Regions from separate parts of the Homo sapiens genome. Here region 2 is linked to region 1. Evidence: fine-mapped expression QTL. A gene starts in region 1. The other region holds a variant in brackets. All regions are shown on one strand. Distances are from middle to middle.

Region 1 (2,909 bases):
ACATGCCATACTTTCTTTTTAAAATCTTTTTTTCCTATGGATGGACATCTGGATCATTTCCAGTTTGGGGCCATCAGGAAGAAAGCTGCTGTGGGTAGTTTTGTTCATGTCTTCTGGTACACATAAGCTCTCATTTCTCTTGGGTGAGTTGAGGAATTAGTTGGTCATCAGGTATTCATATGTTTAGGTTTTGTAAATACTACCAGTTTGCCAATGTGGTTTTATCAATTTCATGAGCCATGTATGAGGGTTCCAGCTGTGACATCCTCGACAAACTAGGTATTGTCAGTCCTTTTAATTTTAGCCATTCTTGGGTGGGTGAGGGCAGTGAAGAGCTATTCTTGACATGGAATGACAAGACCTAGTGTGCCCGAGGTGAAGGCCTGAGCGTCCAGGGGAGCATGAGCCTGTCTTCTATGCCCTGCTGTGCTATGGCAGTGTTTCAGTGTGCTCTGGAGGAAAACAGCAGAGAAGCCGAGTGCTCCAAAGTGGGCAGAAATGAGACAGGCATAATGTGCTAGGCTAATGGTGACTCTTGGAATTTTGTCATTAGCTACAAAGAGGGCAGTGACATGATTTACACACACACACGGGGTGGGGTATCTGAAATATTAGGCAGCTAGTATGGCAGGGGCACCGTCTAATCAGCATGGATGCTGGCCAGGAGAGGACATGTGTATGTGCTGGCTGGAAACAGTCCTGCTCATAGGTCACGATCTTAATGATTAAATAACAAGGCAAGAAATCCGAGAGGGCAGTGCCTGGGAGCACCCTGTTTGCTCTGTGGCCAGAACGCAGCACACTGAAGTATTGCCCATCAGGGTAAGAGGTGCTCGTGATGGTTTGGGCAAATACAAATATTAATCCAGAGTATTTGAGTCTACATGAAAATACTGAAAAGTGAGGGAAGACCCAACCGTTTCCAAGAAATACAAATTGGAACTGGCGATAACTTAAAGAACATAATCAGAGAGGCAGAGGGCATTGGGTTTTACTAAAATATGAAGACATACGTCCTGTCTCCACGTCAGCAACTGCCCAAAGTACACGCGTTCCAGCGAAAAGAGCGGGTGGGGTGGGGAGGCTCAGGGCCAGCCAGAGCTTCGGTGCTTGCACGCCCAGGCCTCCGGGTGACGACTGCTTCCAATTCCGCGCCCTTTAAACCCCATGTTGTTAAAAAAAAAAAAAAAGAAAGAAAACCTATTTCTCTAAAAGTCACGATTCGAGCCCCACCTGAGGACGCAGCGATCCAGCGCCAACTCATTATCTGAGATAAAGGAGTGATTTTACCAGAAGCGCCTATGCAAGACGCAGGGCCCCGCGCGGGCTGCTCCCACCTCTTTCTCTCCTTGCAGGCTACCGAGACCCTGGCTGGGGCGGCCGGCGGCCCCTCCGGCCCATCCGTCGGAAATGATGAGTGGCTCCAGTGGCCGGGGTCCGCAGGACCTACCCCAGCGGGCATGGCGGGAGCCCCGCAGCCCCACACAGCCGCGCTCTGAGCCGCTGACCCCGCGTCTCTCGTGAGGGACCAATCAGCTGCCAGCTAAGGTCACATACCTAGAAGGCCAATTTTGATTGGCTGGGCGCGGGCTAGTCAGCGGGACGGGCGGGCGCGCGGGCGTTGTTGGGCTCCTCTGAGCGGTTGAGGTTGGGGCTGGGGTTGAGCTCGGGTTGGGTTCCTCCTGGGGCAGGAGGGAAAGGCGGGAGCCAGGGCGTCAGGGCCTGCGGACGATGTGTGTGTGAAAGGGCGCGTCAGCCATAAGAAGCCATATGCGTGCGAGCCGGTCCCCACCGTCCCCGCGGCGTTGTCACCATCATCATGAGGCCACTGGAGCAGCCTCAGGCGCTGCTGCCGGGGGGCCGGGCGCGGGGTGCGTCGGGCTCTGCAGGTTGGCACTCACACCCAGCGCGCAGGATGGCAGGCAAGTGAGTCCTGAATCCTGCCCGCGGCTACCCGACACCTCGCCTGTGAGTTCCCGGCCCGGCATTGCTCCATGACCTATGCACAGGCAGAACTCTTGACCGCCACCCACAGGAACCTCACTTACATTGGCTTAACAAAAACGCAACTGATGGTTCCACATAACTGAAAATGTCAGAAGTAGGCCTTCAGGCATGGATGTATCCAGGTACACATTGACCATGGTCCTGGAAGGTTTCTCTCCATCTCTCAGCTTCCTTCCTTTTTGCTGGCTTCCCTTGTGGAGGCAAGATGATCACCAGGACCTCCTGAGGTTTACATGTTATCAGATTATCAACCTCAACAAAAAGGAGATTCTTTTTTTTCCCAGCTTTCCAGGCTGGGCAGTGGTGAGTTTGGCCCACCTGAACTACAAGGACTGAGATGGCTGTGGCCCCCCCCCTCCCCACCAGGAATATAGCAGTGCTGTCATTACCAGAAGGGGCCTCGGATGCTGTGGAGGGCAGTGCCCCATCCTCTGTTTTCAAGCATTATCTGGGAGAGTTGATGCGTGAACCTATTACTCTCACAAAAATAGCAATAATAATAATGGTTATTATGACAATGAAACCCAAAAACACTTATATCGCTCTTACGGTTTCCACATACAAAGCACTTTGACCCACTACTGTCAGGGAAGCAGGGCTTTGCACCCACTGGAGACGCTTCATCCAGCCAACATTCAAGCAGTTTGTTGGGGAGTGGAACAGGGAAGAGCCACACAGGCTGTGTAACCCCAAGTGCTTTGTCATCCCAGAGACAAAGCACCCGGGTTTTTATAGTGGAAGGAGGTTCATTAATGGACAGTTTGACGATGTTTTTTCTTCAGTATTTCAGTAAGTTGAGGGTGTCTGACAGATCATCCTAGGTGATGTGATTGGCAGCTACATGTCTTGGAAAGTTCTCAGCAGGTTGGAATGCTCCTGTCTTTTCTGATGCTCCAAGCACA
Region 2 (2,909 bases), 26 kb after region 1:
TGGAATTCACGTGCTTGTGTAGCCCCTCCTACATTATATCACATAGGTCTGTGTGACCAATAGAATCTGCAGAAGTGATGCCACAGTACTTCCAAGATTAGGTCATAAAAGGTCCTGTTGCTTCCCTCTTGGTTTCTTTCCCTCTCTCTCTCCTCTCTCCTTTCTCTTGGACCCTTTGCTCTGGGGAAACCAGCTGCTACATCACCATCAGCCTTGTGACCATGCCACATGGTAAGGAGCTGAAATCTCAGCAGCCACATGAGTGAGCTCGGCAGCGGATCCTTTAGGCCCCGTCATGCAATCCTGGATTGCAGCCCTGGACATCCACTTAACTAGCAAGACTGAGCCAGAACCACCCAGATGAGCTGCTCCTGGATTCCCAACTCTCAAAAACTGTGAGAGATGTTCAACGGTGGTTGTTTGAAACTGCTGAGTCTCAGTATAATTTGTTACACAGCACTAGCTAACTCATACACGTCACGTTTCTGCAGCAGAATACCTTGGACCTGGGGAGAGCTGGAGATAATTACTCAGTACCACCCAGTACATGGGAAAGTGATTACTGACAGGCTCAGAAATGTTAAGAAGATGCTTAAAAGAAATGGGCTCATGAGCCTTCTTTGCTGAAGTATTAATTACTAGATCTGAATGTTTTGCTTTTCTGTGATGGAAAACGTGAAGAAAATAGGGCTTTTTTTTTTCTTTTGAAGAGATGGGATTTCCCTCTGTCGCTTAGGCTTAACTGCAGTGATTCAGTCATAGCTCACGGCAGCCTCAAACTCCTGGACTCAAGCAAATGACTGATATTTTTTGAGCACCAGCAGTAACGATAGTTACTATTCACTGTTTTCTCCCTGCCAGGTGTTCCACAGACATCCTACATGCATGACATTGATTCACTCTTACATTTGACAGGTGAGGAGACCGAGGCTCAGACAGCCACACCATTCCATGGGTTTTGTTCAAAGGGGTTTGGGGCCAGAGTAGGACTGAGTGCAACTTCATGGAGGTAGACCATGGGGAGGGCAGGGCACCTGCATGCCTGAGAGAATCTCTGCAGGAGGCAGGAGTTCAGAAACTAGCTACTTAAAGGGGTAATGATCTGTGTCAGGGGTGCTAATTAAAATTTGGGGTTTTAAAGAAAAAGTTGGCTGAGTGTGGTAGCTCATGTCTGTAATCCCAACACTTTGGGAGGCCAAGGAAGGTGGATCATTTGAGGTCAGGAGTTCGAGACCAGCCTGGCCAACATGACGAAACCTCGTTTCTACTAAAAATACAAAAATTAGCTGGCCGTGGTGGCGGGTGCCTGTAATCCCAGCTACTTGGGAGGCTGAGGCAGTAGAATTGCTTGAACCTGGGAGGCGGAGGTTGTAGTGAGCCAAGATCATGTCACTGCATTGCAGCCTGGGGGACAGTGTGAGACCCCATCTCAAAAAAAAAGAAAAAAACAACTTTCCAGTTCACAAAAGGAGTGCTTTCACTGAATGCAAGAATAGATTTTCCCTCTTGGTGTGTAAAGTTCTCAGTCATCTGACCCTCTCTGCCAAGAGAGCCCTTCCCGCCCCATTTCTGCCCGTTTGGGCTCCTCTTCCTGGAGAGGCTGCTCCCTGGTGCTGTCCCGT[G/A]CTCCCAGCCTGTCTTCCTTCAGGGTCCAGGCCGGAAGCCTTTGGGGGCAGTGTTGGGGCTCCGCATGTGCCCAGTGCTCAGCCCAGTGCTGGGGCAGAGATGGTGCTCAGGAAAGATCTTGAAAAATGAGCAGGTCTCCAGCCGAGGGGAATCTTACACCTTCCACCTGTTTCCTCAGGATTGCAGGAGCTCCTCAGACAAGATCTGTGGCAACAGTAACAATAAAAGCATCCCATGCGGACCAAACTCCTGCTGCAGTAAGAGCTAAACATATGGTGTCTTACTTTGCCCTCGTTATTACCCCTGAGGGCAGATGGTGCAGTCCCTCTTTATAGAGAAGGCTATAGAAGCCCCAGAGCCATCAGGAATTGGAGGTGATGCCTAAAGCCGGCAGCGCCCAGAGCGGGGTGTTCAACCTGGCAGGGTTGTTAGGGCAAGAGGATTGCGGGGGGAGGGGGGGTGGGCGCAGCACACCCTCCTCCTCATACCACCTCACTTTGTCTCCCACTGCCCCTCCAAGCGTCAGCAGCCCAGGCCACTGTGTGTGCCAAGTCTCCTGTATGTCTTTCGCCTTTTGCTGAGGAAATGCTATTGTGAAGACAAAATGAGAATCAGTCACTTAGGGGCCAGGTGCAGTGGCTCATGCCTGCAATCCCAGCACTTTGGGAGGCCAAGGAGGGCAGATAACTTGAGCCTGGAAGTTTGAGACCAACCTGGGCAACATAGTGAGACCCCGTTCTATAAAAATTAAAAAATTAGCCAGGCATGATGGCACACGCCTGTAGTCCCAGCTACTCAGGAGGCCGAGGAAGATCTCTTGAACCCAGGAGGTCAAGGCTGCAGTGAGCCGTGATTGCGCCACTGCACTCAGGCTTGGGTGACAAAGTGAGACCCTGTCTCAAAAATAAGCCCCACCCCCCAAAAAACCCAGTTACTTAGAGCTTTGCAGAAATCTTCAAAATCTATCAAAACCATCCCATCCAATATAAATTACTGTATACATTATAACGAGCTAAAATAAGCACATTTTTGGTAAATTACTAAATTTCATAAGTTCCTCAAGTTGGTTTCATCCAGTAAAATGCTCCCTTTGGGGAAGTGGCACGAGGAGAATCAACTGAAGCCAGGACTGTCGCTCGTCCTGGCAGGCAGTTGGGACCCGGTTCCATCAGGGACTTTCTGAGGACGTGTGCAGGCTCCACGGGGGTTACTGCTCTCTCCCTGCGCTGGTGTGGGCTGTCCCACAGGGTGACGTGTCCTTGGCATTTCTGTGGCTGGATGGCTTC

What was found. PIP is the estimated chance that this variant, and not a neighbour inherited with it, causes the effect.
Region 2: its variant is fine-mapped to the expression of C16orf95 in gastroesophageal junction (GTEx, PIP 0.96).

Annotation. Positions count from the first base shown.
Region 1 is chr16:87,316,104-87,319,012 of GRCh38, reverse strand. C16orf95 (chromosome 16 open reading frame 95) reads left to right here and starts at 1,621. Exons shown (of 7, transcript NM_001195124.3): 1 at 1,621-1,922. The coding sequence starts at 1,771. It overlaps C16orf95-DT (C16orf95 divergent transcript), which reads right to left and starts at 1,504. Exons shown (of 2, transcript NR_135180.1): 1 at 1,291-1,504; 2 at 970-1,156. RefSeq lists an enhancer at 1,594-2,043.
Region 2 is chr16:87,289,690-87,292,598 of GRCh38, reverse strand. LOC101928682 (a long non-coding RNA gene) reads left to right here and starts at 147. Exons shown (of 5, transcript NR_104667.1): 1 at 147-231; 2 at 862-915; 3 at 1,802-1,880. The variant G/A (reference allele first, on the strand shown) is at 1,623.